3 separate regions of the Homo sapiens genome follow, and regions 2 and 3 are each linked to region 1. Evidence: fine-mapped expression QTL. A gene starts in region 1. Each other region holds a variant in brackets. All regions are shown on one strand. Distances are between the middles of the regions.

Region 1 (4,332 bases):
GGGCAAATAAAAGCTGTGAAGGCTAAAGTGGCTCCAATGTAAGAATATTTTTGTTTAAAAATTTAAAAAATTTTCAGAGATATTAGAGGAGGAACTCTTCCTGGAATAGCGGTAGCAGCGAATCTGCCACCTTAACACAGAAATAATTGTAAAAACTAAGAGTGCTCACAGAGGGTGTCAGCATCACCTCGTTTATAACAAGGGTGCATCTATCTTAAAAAAATCTGTATCACAAGAGGCCTATATGTTAAGTTTTAAGCTTTAATAAGATAAAAGTCACCATAGACAAAGGTAATGGACAAGAAAAGTATATTTATACTTACAGAATATTTAGTGAATTCTCCCATATCACGAAAAAAAGGACAAACACCTCAACGGAATCATATTGGCAAAAAACAAACAAGCAATTTATAGAAGAGGGAATTTAAATGGCCAAGAAACATGAAAAGCTGATCAATTTTCCCATCGTAAGGAAAATACAAATTAAAACAAGACATAACTCTTCATTCATCACCTTTGCAAATCGTGGCTGTGTGCAGGAAGATGGTTCATCTCATTTGCTACTGGTGAAATACATTCATTCAGCCTCCTAGAAAGACAATTTGGCAGGACCAAGTAAATAACTGGACCCTTTGCCTCAATAATTACATTTTTAAGGTTTAGAGACAAGATAAATATTTGTTTAGATGTAAAAACCCAAAAAGAAATATATAATCATTGTTATGATAGCTTATTGGTAAATGTGAACAATTTAAAAACAATCTAAATGTCCTTCAATTGGAGAATAAATAATTATCATATATCAATTCTATGGAATAGCATGTATAAAAAGAATGAGGCAGATCTATATGTATTAAGGTTAAAAGATCTCTAAGTTTTCCACTATTAAAATAAGTAAAAATGCAAAATGCAGACTAGCACATGTAATATAATTTATTATAAATCAAGAACATAAATTACGTATTTACAAAAAATGCATTAGATATATAAATGCATAGAAAAATATAAGAAAAGCTGTGCCCAAGACTCTTCACAGGACTGGGAAGAGAAGCTACAAGAATGGCTGAGTGGCAAAGATGACTTTTTCCTTAATATACTTCTCCACTGTTTTAAATTTTATGAACAATAATGTACAGTGTATTTCTTTTGTATTAAAAAATTTAAAAGATTAAGTAATGTTATTTCTCAACTCACTACTAGAGAAAAGTTAGGATTTCCTTCTCTTTTCTGGTCAGAGGTATCCCCCATCTTGGGACAGGAAATTGAGGTAAAAATGAAAATATTTAGCCGTTTGTCACCCTGGGCCTTTTTCTTCCCTTTCCTTCTTTTGATCAAGGTTGATGGAATAAGAACTCAGACCCTGAGCCAGTCATGGGAACAGCCGGCAGAGGCCCCTTGCCAGGACAGGTGAGACCACAGCGTCTGATGTTTAAAAGTAAGCCAGGTGTTTACCCTGGAGTGTTTATTTTCTAAAGCACCTTTTTTGACATGACATATTTGAAGGTAGAGGAAGGCTGAGGGGTGAAAGGGTTCACAGATCATGAGGAAATAGTTAATCCCAGCCACCAACAACTGCTATGTTTAGAGTGTCCCGGTCAGCTGAGCAGTAAATCCAAAACAAGAAAGTCACGTGTGTTATGGCAAGTTGAACTCACACCAACAGCTGTCCTGCTCCTGTTTAAAAAATCTGATTTCCTCATTACTTGTCTTTCATTTCATTATATAACATCGCATACCTATGTTCTTGCAAAGAAGGATTAAAGTGAAGCCTTAGGCACAAACTGAACTAAAGGCATGAAAGCTGCAATATAGCCAGAGATAAAGGTTAAAGGAAGGGAGATAAAGACTCACCTGGTGCTCAGGTCGCCGCCCCCACCTGCCATCTTCCCACCCTAGGCCCTGCGTGGGCCTCAGAGCCTGGCCTCTGAGCCCCTCAGTCGGCCCAGCCTGCGTGCAGTGTGGCTGCCCAGGCCCCAAGCAGGAAGTCGGCCGACAGACTGACTCAGAAAGGGCTCCGCCCAAATGGGGAAAAGAGAAGTGAAAGTATTTAACCTCCTTCTGGGCTACGGACACTGTGTTTCTCCTCCTTTTTCACTCCAAGGGATTCTCAGCTTTTCTGAAATGTGGCAGAGGGTTGGAGGAGAGGCCTGACAAGCAGCAAGACCTGCAGGACCAGGGAAGGAGGGCCCAGGGGACGAGCAGGGCCAGCTCCCGGGTGTCCACTTGTTTGTGCAATACACAGCCAAAAAAAATGTCCTTGAAACAAAATTGTCCTTAGCTGCTCTGCCCTCTAAGAGGGGGCATAGTTTACATGGGAGTTGGGGGGGAAACTCCATGTTTGCCCCTTCCCCTTGCTGACATGGCTTGGGGTGGGAGTTGGAGGGTTGGAGGGAAAGCCAGAAACCTCAAATCTTCTCTCAGGCCCATGGGAGAGCATGGACTGGACTAAGGTAGGTCCTGACATTGGGACCCAGGGCTGGAGAGAACCAAAATGCTCAGCATTATAACCTGGGGAGAGTGTGCTTAGCCTTCCTGGAAATCAGCCAGAAGTAAGAGAGAACTCTCCACACCCCTGGGACCAGAGGCTGGAGCCAGCATGGTAAGAAAGGCAAACATTTTAAGGGGCAAGGGTTTAAGGAATCTTGACTATGGGGCCGCCTTGGAACAGCCAGGGGTGAAGAGACACCTAAGCTTCGGAGAAGTCACTGGAATCTTGAGAGAACAAAAGCTTCTCATTGGAGGAGGATGGAGGTTGGAACCCAGATGATCTAGACATGGAAGGGCAGGGTGGCTCCCGCGGGAGGTTCTATCTCTGCCCAGATTTTCCATTTAGATTCTGATTCATCATTCCTCAGAGAACAAGAAGCGACCGAGAAGACTCGCTTTACATCAGTATAAAGTCATAGGTAAAGAAACAGAAGCAAAGGGCGCATGAGAATGGGGCCACAGGACACAACCAGGGACCAGAACTCCAGGCCGGACCATGGGGCAGAGACAGGGAGGCAGCTGGGAGCCTGGGGGCGCTGGAATCCAGGGCCCAAGGTGAGCAGAGGGTGGAAGCTGGTGAGGATTCAGGGGCCAGAGGGGATGGCACTTCAGAACGGTGTTTTCCAAATGGCATTCTACTGAATCCAACTTCTTCCAGCTGTGAATAAGGATGCTTGTCCAGGTACATTTGAAAATGTGGGGGAAGGGGCTTTCTACCCTCACTCTACTTCTGCTCTTCTTTTCCCCATGAGTGAATGACCAGGCACCAGGACATTGGTGAGGACAGCTTTGCCGGTGGGCGAAGGTCACTGTTTCTATCAGGCACTGCACACCTGTAGGTCTCTCTCTCTTTCTCTCACCTGTAGGTCTCTCTCTCTTTCTCTCATTCTTCCTACCCCCCATGACTCCCCGACTTTATGGGGCTGAAGGGCTGGTAAGCTGAGCCTCTTTTGGGCACAGCTGTCCTTTGATCCCAGTCTCCATGAGGCACATTGGTCCCAAGAAGTCCTGGCATGGACCACACAGTATGCTTTGGTGTGGTTCACGTTCTCCCCTCTCGCTGCCTCTGGGCAGCAGGCAGGCTCAGGCCATTGAGTGGCACTGACATAAACGTGCCAGCTTTTCCCTGGATGTGCTTAGGGGCTACTAAGAGCAGCACCTGGAATTCCAGACCAATGAGCCACAGGCTGGCAGGGAATTCCTTACGGGTTGAACTTCACGGGCAGACATGCCCATGCTGGGGCACCTCCTGGCAGCAGGGAAGGAGATGTTCTCATCAGATGAGGTTGGAGACAGATGAGCATGCACCATGCTCCGCTGGTATATGGAGAATCTGTAGGCCTCTGTGAAGAAAGCAAAGTTTCTCTGATCCAGAAAACAATGTCAGACACACTGGGGTTGGGAAAGGGACGGGACCACATTAAGAAGACATGTGAGCTAAAAATCCTGCTGGACTGTTTAGAAGGAAATAATGGAACTCCTGGGGCATTTTCCATGGCTGCAAGGAGCACAGGCAATAGGGAATATTTCTGTTGTCAAGAAGTAGTTCCAGTTACTGGAGCCTGGAAAACTCAAAAGCAGGGGAGGCAGTGATTGAGGAAGGACCACAGGCAGGGCACCCAGCCAGATGATGGGCCTCTTACATTTCACCAAGAGCAGCTTCAGTTCAGACTTCAGTGGTGTGGGTGAGGCAGGAGAATAGGGTCTGGAGGCAGGGAACCTAAGGCCATTTCATGCTAACTTCCTAGAACTAAATTGAAAGGAAAACCCTAACTTTCCATGCCTAAGTAACAAAAGGTCCAGAGGCTACTCCCTTTGCAAACCCCCACCTTTTCTGTGGGGCAA
Region 2 (4,000 bases), 51 kb before region 1:
AAATCAATAATATCTAACTAAAAGATCTATAAATCTTATGACTGCTTACACTGTTGACAGAATTTGGACTATAAATATTCTATGAGGATCATTTCTGTCTCTTCCCATCTAAGGGAAAGAGATTACTATCAAATGGAGCACAGACCCACAATCCTTTAGCCCTAATTGCAAAATCAATGACTTTTTTTTTTTTTTTTTTTTTTTTGAGACAGGGTCTCACTCTGTCAGCCAAGCTGGAGGGCAGTGGTGCAATCTTGGCTCACTGCAGTCTTGACCTTCCAGGCTCAAATGATCCTTCCACCTCAGCCTCCCACATCACTGGGACTACAGGCATGCACCACCACCATGCCCAGCTAATTTTTTGCATTTTTTGGTAGAAATGGGGTTTTGCCATGTTGCCTAGGCTGGTCTTGAACTCCTGGGCTCAAAAGATCCACCTGCCTCAGCCCCTCAGCCTCCCAAAGTGTTGGGATTATAGGCGTGAGCCACCACACCTGGCCTCAAAGATATTTTAATAACCAGTATTGTTTTCATAGGTTTGCAGCTAACTAATTTGGCAGTGAATCTGGACTTGAGTTGCCATGAGTCCGTGTAAAATCTTATCATATTTGGTGTGAATATTTATATAATTTGCTGTATAAACATTAGTATATTTGAGAATGGGATTCTTCCCTGGATCCTACTAGGGTATTTTGTTGTATATAGAATATAAACCACATTGTCTTTCTAAAATAATAAAACATTTTTTGAACTTTGAAGTACATCTGGCTTTGAAGGTTTTATAGAGGATTATGAATGTTTATTAAGAGTTTGGGTTGTTAGTCTTGTCTCCTCCTATAACTTTCCATATGTGATGTGCAAAGAAAAAAGATCCTTAAGTGTGCCTTAGTTTCCCCATCTGTCAAATGGGGGGAACAATAGTTATCTCACCCACCTTTTAGGTTGTTGTAAAGATGCAAGTAGATCTTATTTGTAAATATATTTTCAAATATCACTATTTGGCCAATTTCATGTTGGGGGCCATCTGTCAAAAGCTATGAATTGAATCTGATGGTAAGAAACAGGAGGCTTTCTTTCTGTCAATAACTAGAGAGTATGACCAGAAGCTTTGGAATTTTGAACAAGTTGGTGACAAAATCAGGCAATAACAGACTAGTGTACTTTCTTTTCTTTACAAAACAGAGAATGAGCAGAAGTAGAAATCACTACATAAATCCAATACTTTGGAGTTAATAGGTCTGGCAGTGATATGGTTTGGCTGTGTCCTCACCCAAATCTCATCTTGAATTCCCATGTGTTGTGGGAGGGGCCTGGTGGCACGTAATTGAATCATGGGGAGAGATCTTTCCTGTGCTGTTCTTGTGATAGTGAATAAGTCTTACAAGATCTGAATGGTTATATAAGGGGGAGTTTCCCAGCAGAAGCTCTCTTCTCTTGTCTGCCACCATGTGAGACGTGCCTTTCACCTTCTGCCATGATTGTGAGGCCTCCCCAGCCATGTGGAACTGTAAGTCCATTACACCTCTTTCTTTTGTAAATTACCCAGTCTCAGGTATGTCTTTATCAGCAACATGAAAATGGACTAATACAGGCAGTATGTAGTAAACAGGCCACTGCCACTCAACCACAACCATCTTGTTAAGCCTGAATTTAGAGTGACTTCTTTCTTTGCATTTTTCAAAATGGCCAGATGAGGTAGATGCAGAGAACTGGCTCCTGGATAGCTGTTGTGTGTGCTCAGAGCACAGTGCATCAGGGAAGAGGTGCTCTGAAGTCAGAGCCCTGAAGTCAAGGGAGCTGTTCTTACCCTTCTCACCATGCTTGCTTCTCAGTGCCCCGCTCGAGGCTTCTGCGGGCGCCTCCTCCTCACTGGATTCTGAAAAGTCGTGGTCTTGTCCTATCACTGCAGAAAGGAGCAAATGTCCTTTGGAGCTCTCAATGTATGATAAGGGAACCAAGTCAGAATAATATTCTATGAAAAGGAAACTAGGAAAATTTGTGATGCTCTGAAACTTCAGGGCAAGAATGTCC[G/A]TGCCTCAAACCTCCATGATCTGCCTTTTCATTCAGATTTGTGTGGCTCAAGGTTAGTATTTTATCCCTCACTGTCACCTGAGCCTGAGGCTGAGAAAATTTTAGCCCCAGTGGGCATCTCTGCTTTGTCTTGGCCCTCTGTCTTCTTACACCACATTATCTTTCTTTCTTTACTTGTCCCTTTATGGTTTTGTTGTGGTTTTTGTATATGGATTTGTATTTATTTGTAAATTTGCTTCTCTCTCAGGGCAACCATGAAAGTCTAGGATGGGAGAAGGCAGATCTTCTACTTGCCTGCTTCCCTGAAGAACTGCTTGAAACAGAGCCCAACCTTTCCCTCATCTAAAAATCCTTGAAATATTCAGTTGAAAAAAATACAAACTTCTACTAAAAAAATAAAAAACCTTCTGTTGTGTTGGGGTCATTGACTTCTTTGGGTTCATATGTTATAGCAGTTAGCCAACCTCCCTAATACAAAGGCTAAAATAGGAACCATTGAAATTTAAAGCAAATTTATATTTTACTTTGAAGGATATAGCAAGGAATTAGACTGACTCTTTTGTAGAAAATATTGTTCATTTATAACCATGAAGAGAAGTTATTTTCTCTTACCTCTTTTCCTAAAGCTTTCTCTTACCTCTTTTCTTAAAACTTTCTCTGAATGTAGATAATTTTCTGAAATCCATGGGCTCTGTAAAGTAAAAGGGAGAAACCCGTTATTTGTATGCAAGAGACTTATAAATTCTATGACAACTGACATGGCAAATGGGCTTGGGTTAATAACAAAGTTTTTTTTTTTTTTTTTTTGAGATGGAGTCTTGTTCTATCACCCAGGCTGGAGTGCAGTGGTGCAATCTTGGTACACTGTAGCTTCTGCCTCCCAGGTTCCAGTGATTCTCCTGCCTCAGCCTCCTGAGTAGCTGGGATTATAGTTGTGCACCACCAAGCCCGGCTAATTTTTGTATTTTTAGTAAAGACGGGGTTTCACTGTGTTGGTCAGACTGGTCTCGAACTCCTGACCTCAGGTGATCCACCTGCCTCAGCCTCCCAAAATGCTGGGATTACAGACCTGAGCCATCGTGCCCTGCCAATAACAAAGTTTTGATGAGCGTTTTTCTCTCTCTCCTTCTAGTGAATCCAGTTCTGGAGGTTCAGGGTCATAATGTTGGGATCCTGCCCAGCTCTCTCCATAATCCTCTGTGTGTATTATTTGGAAATGCCTCTTTTTAATTAATTTTTTCAACTTCTATTTTAGGTTTGGGGGTATATGTGAAGGTTTGTCACATGGGTAAATGTGTGTCACAGGAGTTTGTTGTACAGATGATTTCATCACCCAGGTATTAAGCCCAGTACTCAATAGTTATCTTTTCTTCTCCTCTCCCTCCTCCAACCCTCCATCCTCAAGTAGACCCCAGCATCTGCTGTTTCCTTCTTTGTGTTCATAAGTTCTTATTATTAAGATCCCACTTACAAGTGAGAACATATGGTATTTGGTTTTCTGTTTCTGCGTTACTTTGCTAAGGATAATAGCCTCCAGCTCCATTTACGTTCTCTCAAAATACATGATCTCGTTCTTTTTTACTTATTTTTTTTGAGACAGGGTCTCACTCTGTCACCCAGGCTAGAGTGCAGTGGCACAATCGTAACTCACTGCAGCCTCAACTTCCCAGGTTCCAGTGACTCTCTCACCTCAGCCTCCCGAGTAGCTGGATCACAGGTGCACACACACTACCATTCCTGGCTAATTTTTTTTTTTGAGATGGAGTCTTGCTCTGTCACCCAGGCTGGAGTGCAGTGGTATGATCTTGGCTCACTGCAACATCCCTCTCCTGGGTTCAAGTGATTCTTTGGCCTCAGCCTCCCGAGTGGCTGGGACTATAGGCAAGCGCCACCATGCCTGGCTAATTTTTGTATTTTTAGTAGAGACAGGGTTTCACCATATTGGCCAGGATGGTCTCGAACTCCTAAT
Region 3 (4,000 bases), 95 kb before region 1:
TTATATAATTATTTCATTATTTCAGTATCTATTACAATGTAATAATAATAGAAATAAAGTGCAGGATAAATTTAATGTGCTTGAAACATCCCAAAATCATCCTGCCCCCAACCCCATCCCGGTCTGTGGAAAAACTGTCTTCCACAAAATTGGTTCCTGGCACCAAAAAGTTTGGGGACCTCTGCTATAAGAGCACTTCAACTTGTGGCCAGTGCGGTGGCTCATGCCTGTAATCCCAGCACTTTGGGAGGCTGAGGCAGGTGGATCACGAGGTCAGGAGTTCAAGACCAGCCTGATCAGCATGACAAAACCCTGTCTCTACTAAAAATACAAAAATCAGCCAGGCATGGTGGCACACACCTGTAGTCCCAGCTACTTGGGAGGCTGAGGCAGGAGAATTGCCTGAATCCAGCAGGTAGAGGTTGCAGTGAGGCAAGATCGTGCCACTGGACTCCAGCCTGGGCAATGGAGCGAGACTCCGTCTCAAAAAAAAAAAAAAAAAAAAAAAAAAAAAAAGGCATTTCAATTTGTTAAAAACTCCCAATACTCCCAACTTTGTTGGTGTGTTTTATTGAGTCACTCCTCACATTTGGCTTTTAAGAAATCGTTATCAAATTATTTCTTCCTGGCCAGCACTGTGGCTCATGCCTGTAATCCTAGCACTTTGGGAGGCTGAGTTGGGAGGATCACTTCAGCTCAGGAGTTCAAGACAAGCCTGGGCAACATAGTGAGACCCTGGCTCTACAACAAATTAAAAAAATTAGCTGATGTGGTGGCATGCACCCGTAGTCCTGGCTATTTGGGAGGCTGAGGTGGGAGGATCACTTAAGCCCAGAAGGTTGAGGCTGCAGTGAGCTGTGATTGTGTCACTGCATTCTAGCCTGGGTGACACAGCAAGATCCTGTCTCAAAAAATTTATTTATTCCTAAACAGCCTTAATTTTGGTTGATAATGGAGCCTGTGGAATCAGGTTTGTACATCATTGAGCACCAGTCAAGAAGTGAGAATAAACATGCCTCATCAGTTGCCAAGTGGTGATGGTTTTTGTCCTAACCAGCTCAGCATACTGAGCCTAAACCTCCCTCAAGAGTGGCAATAGGGGCTTCATAAGAGACTCACTTTTCGTGTGTGTCTTCCTCTGCAGAACTAATGACAGAGTCCATACCTCGAACTCACCAGCTCGGCTCGGTCTGTTCCTTCTGGCTGACTGAGCTCTGTCTGCACCTTGGAGCAGATATTTGGGATTTTCCTTTCCATTCCCACCACCTACTTGAAAATGCTTTTATTTTCTGACATTTGATCCTTCTCCCTAATCGGCAGGCCAGCCCTGTCCATTACTACTTCAAGTTCTTGTCTCTGGAGGCCTCGGTGATCTAGAGCTCAGCCTCCTATACTCACTTTCTAAGGGAAATGAGGAAATTTGAAGATTTCTACTGAAACAAAAGGCTGCTTTTGCACTGAGACACCCAATCCCAGACCCAGGTACCTGGCTTGCATCTTCTAATCACACACAGCAACATACTCCAACTGAGACTGAGCATGCTTCGGGGAAAGGCAGTCATGACATAGTGTGCCTGGAGAAAGGCCTGACTTATTTTGGGGTCATAGTCGGAAATTTATACTTACACAAGGGTCAACTAAGGTATTGTTGTGAGATTCCAGTATTCTCTGTTGAAAAAAACAGAAAGATTGGTACAATATTGAGTGTGATTTTTCATTAACCCCACATTTGAACAGACTTCTTTATTTTTAAGGGATTCATGCCACAGCCCTTCTTTTGTTTCATGTCTGCTTTTATGGACCTGTACATCTAACTGAAGAATAAAAAAGCACTAAATTATGTGTCAGTGACAGTTTGGCCCAATGCAAGTGCCATTTCCTGGCTCTCACACCCAAGGCAGGCCTTCGTGAAACCATTCAGGGAGACTGAGCTGGAGCAACTCTATCGGTCCTCCTACTTCAAGGGGCCTGCAGGCATGTTTGTCTAAATTTGGAAGTGTCCAGGTGCAGTGGCTCATGCCTGTAATCCCAGCACTTTGGGAGGCCGAGGAGGGCAGATCACAAGGTCAAGAGATCAAGTCCATCCTGGCTAACGTGGTGAAACCCCGTCACTACTAAAAATACAAAA[A/G]TTAGCTGAGTGTGGTGGCGCGCACCTGTAGTGGGCTGAGGGAGGAGAATCGCTTGAACCCGGGGGGTGGAGGTTGCAGTGAGCTGAGATTGCACCATTGCACTCTAGCCTGGTGACAGAGCTAGACTCTGTAAAAAAAAAAAAAAAAAAAAAAAAAAAAAAAAAAAAAAAAAAAAAAAAAAAAAAAAAAAGGAAGTGTCATTCCATCCAGAGAAGCTGCAAAGGGAATCGGCCGACTCTTCCTCCACAGCTCCCAGTGACCACAGGGCCCAGAGTCTTGGACACCATGCAGGTGTCCCAGGAATAACTCTAACCCTTTCTGCAGCTCTCCAGGAACACATCTTTGAAGACAAAATGCCTCCAAGATCCCCAGTACTGTAGCTCTTCTCCTGAAGGTAAGCACCTCTCCACTTTCTCCTGAATCTTGAGAGCTTGCTTTGACCTAGGGTATCTGTGGAATGAAACAATGACTGCTAAAGCTTTTACCTGTAGCTCAAGGCAGAGAGGCCTTAGACAAACCACTCAGTGGGATCCAAGGCATGATGATAGAAGAGGTGGCCATATTACCACCTGCCAGAAGCAATCTGGGCCTTTTGGCTAAGATAAAGTATAGCAGCTTAGTGGCCTAGAATCTCCCACTCCATCCCATGAGTTATTCACCCAGGTAAGACAATAAGGTTGACAGAATCCTTAAGGTTCATCCTTTTGGCCTCCTTTGTTTTGCATTATTTCATTGGCCAAGCCCATCACCTGGAGCTTTGTAGTGGCTCCACAGTTGTTTGTTTAATGGATACATAAGTGCATGAACAAGTGAACACAATTGTCACTTGGGAGAAGAGGTTTCTTAGCAGCCAGTAAACGATTAGCTTGGACTTTTATGACTTATTATCCTGGGGTATCTCAGCTATCACCAGCAGGTTTAACAAAAAACTTATAAGCAGGAAAGCTGGCAACAATAGCAGTTACCACGCGGTGCTGAGAGTGACACAAGCATTAGAAACCGAGGGGAGAGGAGGGAAGATAGACCCTCCGGGGAGATCCTCTGAGAACCGAGGCAATTTCACCTCTAGAGCTGTGGGCCCTCAGGGAATGGAGAGAGGGTGCCTGTGATGAAGGGATGGGAGATGGCCAGCTCAATTGATTAGCCCAGACTGCATCAGCCTTGACTGTCTGGCAGTGGGTAGACATGTTTGATTTTAATAATTATATCAAATAATGTCTTTCTCCAGAAAACCCAGTGGATACAGAGCCTAGTCACTGAATCTCTAGTCATAAAGCCAGTGGAGCAGGTAGCCCCAGGAGCCAGCTTTGTAAAGATTGTGACTTCCTGGTATGGCAGAAATATCCAAGGTCACCCATGTCAGAGCTTAGGAAAATGGAAGTTCTTCCATCTCCTTCCTTCACCAGGTTCTCTCTTATACCCAGCCTTGGAGAGGCCATGGAAGGCATCAGTGATCTCACCATTTTTCCATAGAATACATATAGTATGAAGACCACTGGTCTATGAACTCCACATACTACCTCCACAGAGGGAGAATTTCACCTTCACAGATAGAAGTGAGGTCTGTGCAGCCCTTTTACTGGGGCCAAAGGGCCTCTCCACAAAGGAAAAGATTTTCTAGGTCAGCAGCCTCACAGGGCACTCTGCCTCCCAGTCCAAAATTTTCACCTGAAGAACTCGCGTGTGTGTGTGTATGTGTGTGTGTGTGTGTGTGTATGTGTGTGTGTGTGTGTGTGTGTGTGTGTGGTGGAGGTAAAAGATAAAAGAAAAGGAGAGAATGTTTTTTGTTGTTTGCTTCCCTGGGTGACATATGCCTATATATACATTTTAGGGGGAATTCTCCATTAGGTCATGTGTAGTGACCATGGGAT

The links. PIP is the estimated chance that this variant, and not a neighbour inherited with it, causes the effect.
Region 2: its variant is the best candidate, but not a certain one, in a credible set for the expression of SP100 in whole blood (TOPMed, PIP 0.51).
Region 3: its variant is the best candidate, but not a certain one, in a credible set for the expression of SP100 in whole blood (INTERVAL, PIP 0.85).

The regions. Positions count from the first base shown.
Region 1 is chr2:230,413,848-230,418,179 of GRCh38, reverse strand. It overlaps SP100 (SP100 nuclear antigen), which reads right to left and starts at 1,979. Exons shown (of 29, transcript NM_001080391.2): 1 at 1,852-1,979; 2 at 515-589. The coding sequence starts at 1,883. RefSeq lists an enhancer at 1,813-2,332.
Region 2 is chr2:230,465,023-230,469,022 of GRCh38, reverse strand. It overlaps SP100 (SP100 nuclear antigen), which reads right to left. Exons shown (of 29, transcript NM_001080391.2): 12 at 2,669-2,722; 13 at 1,808-1,903. All of the region lies in intron 3 of LOC101928816 (a long non-coding RNA gene), which reads left to right. Among named protein-coding and RNA genes, the nearest start is that of SP100, 51 kb to the right of the region's middle. The variant G/A (reference allele first, on the strand shown) is at 2,032.
Region 3 is chr2:230,508,793-230,512,792 of GRCh38, reverse strand. It overlaps SP100 (SP100 nuclear antigen), which reads right to left. Exons shown (of 29, transcript NM_001080391.2): 24 at 1,627-1,668. It overlaps LOC101928816 (a long non-coding RNA gene), which reads left to right. Exons shown (of 4, transcript XR_427235.4): 2 at 2,454-2,523. Among named protein-coding and RNA genes, the nearest start is that of SP100, 95 kb to the right of the region's middle. The variant A/G (reference allele first, on the strand shown) is at 2,129.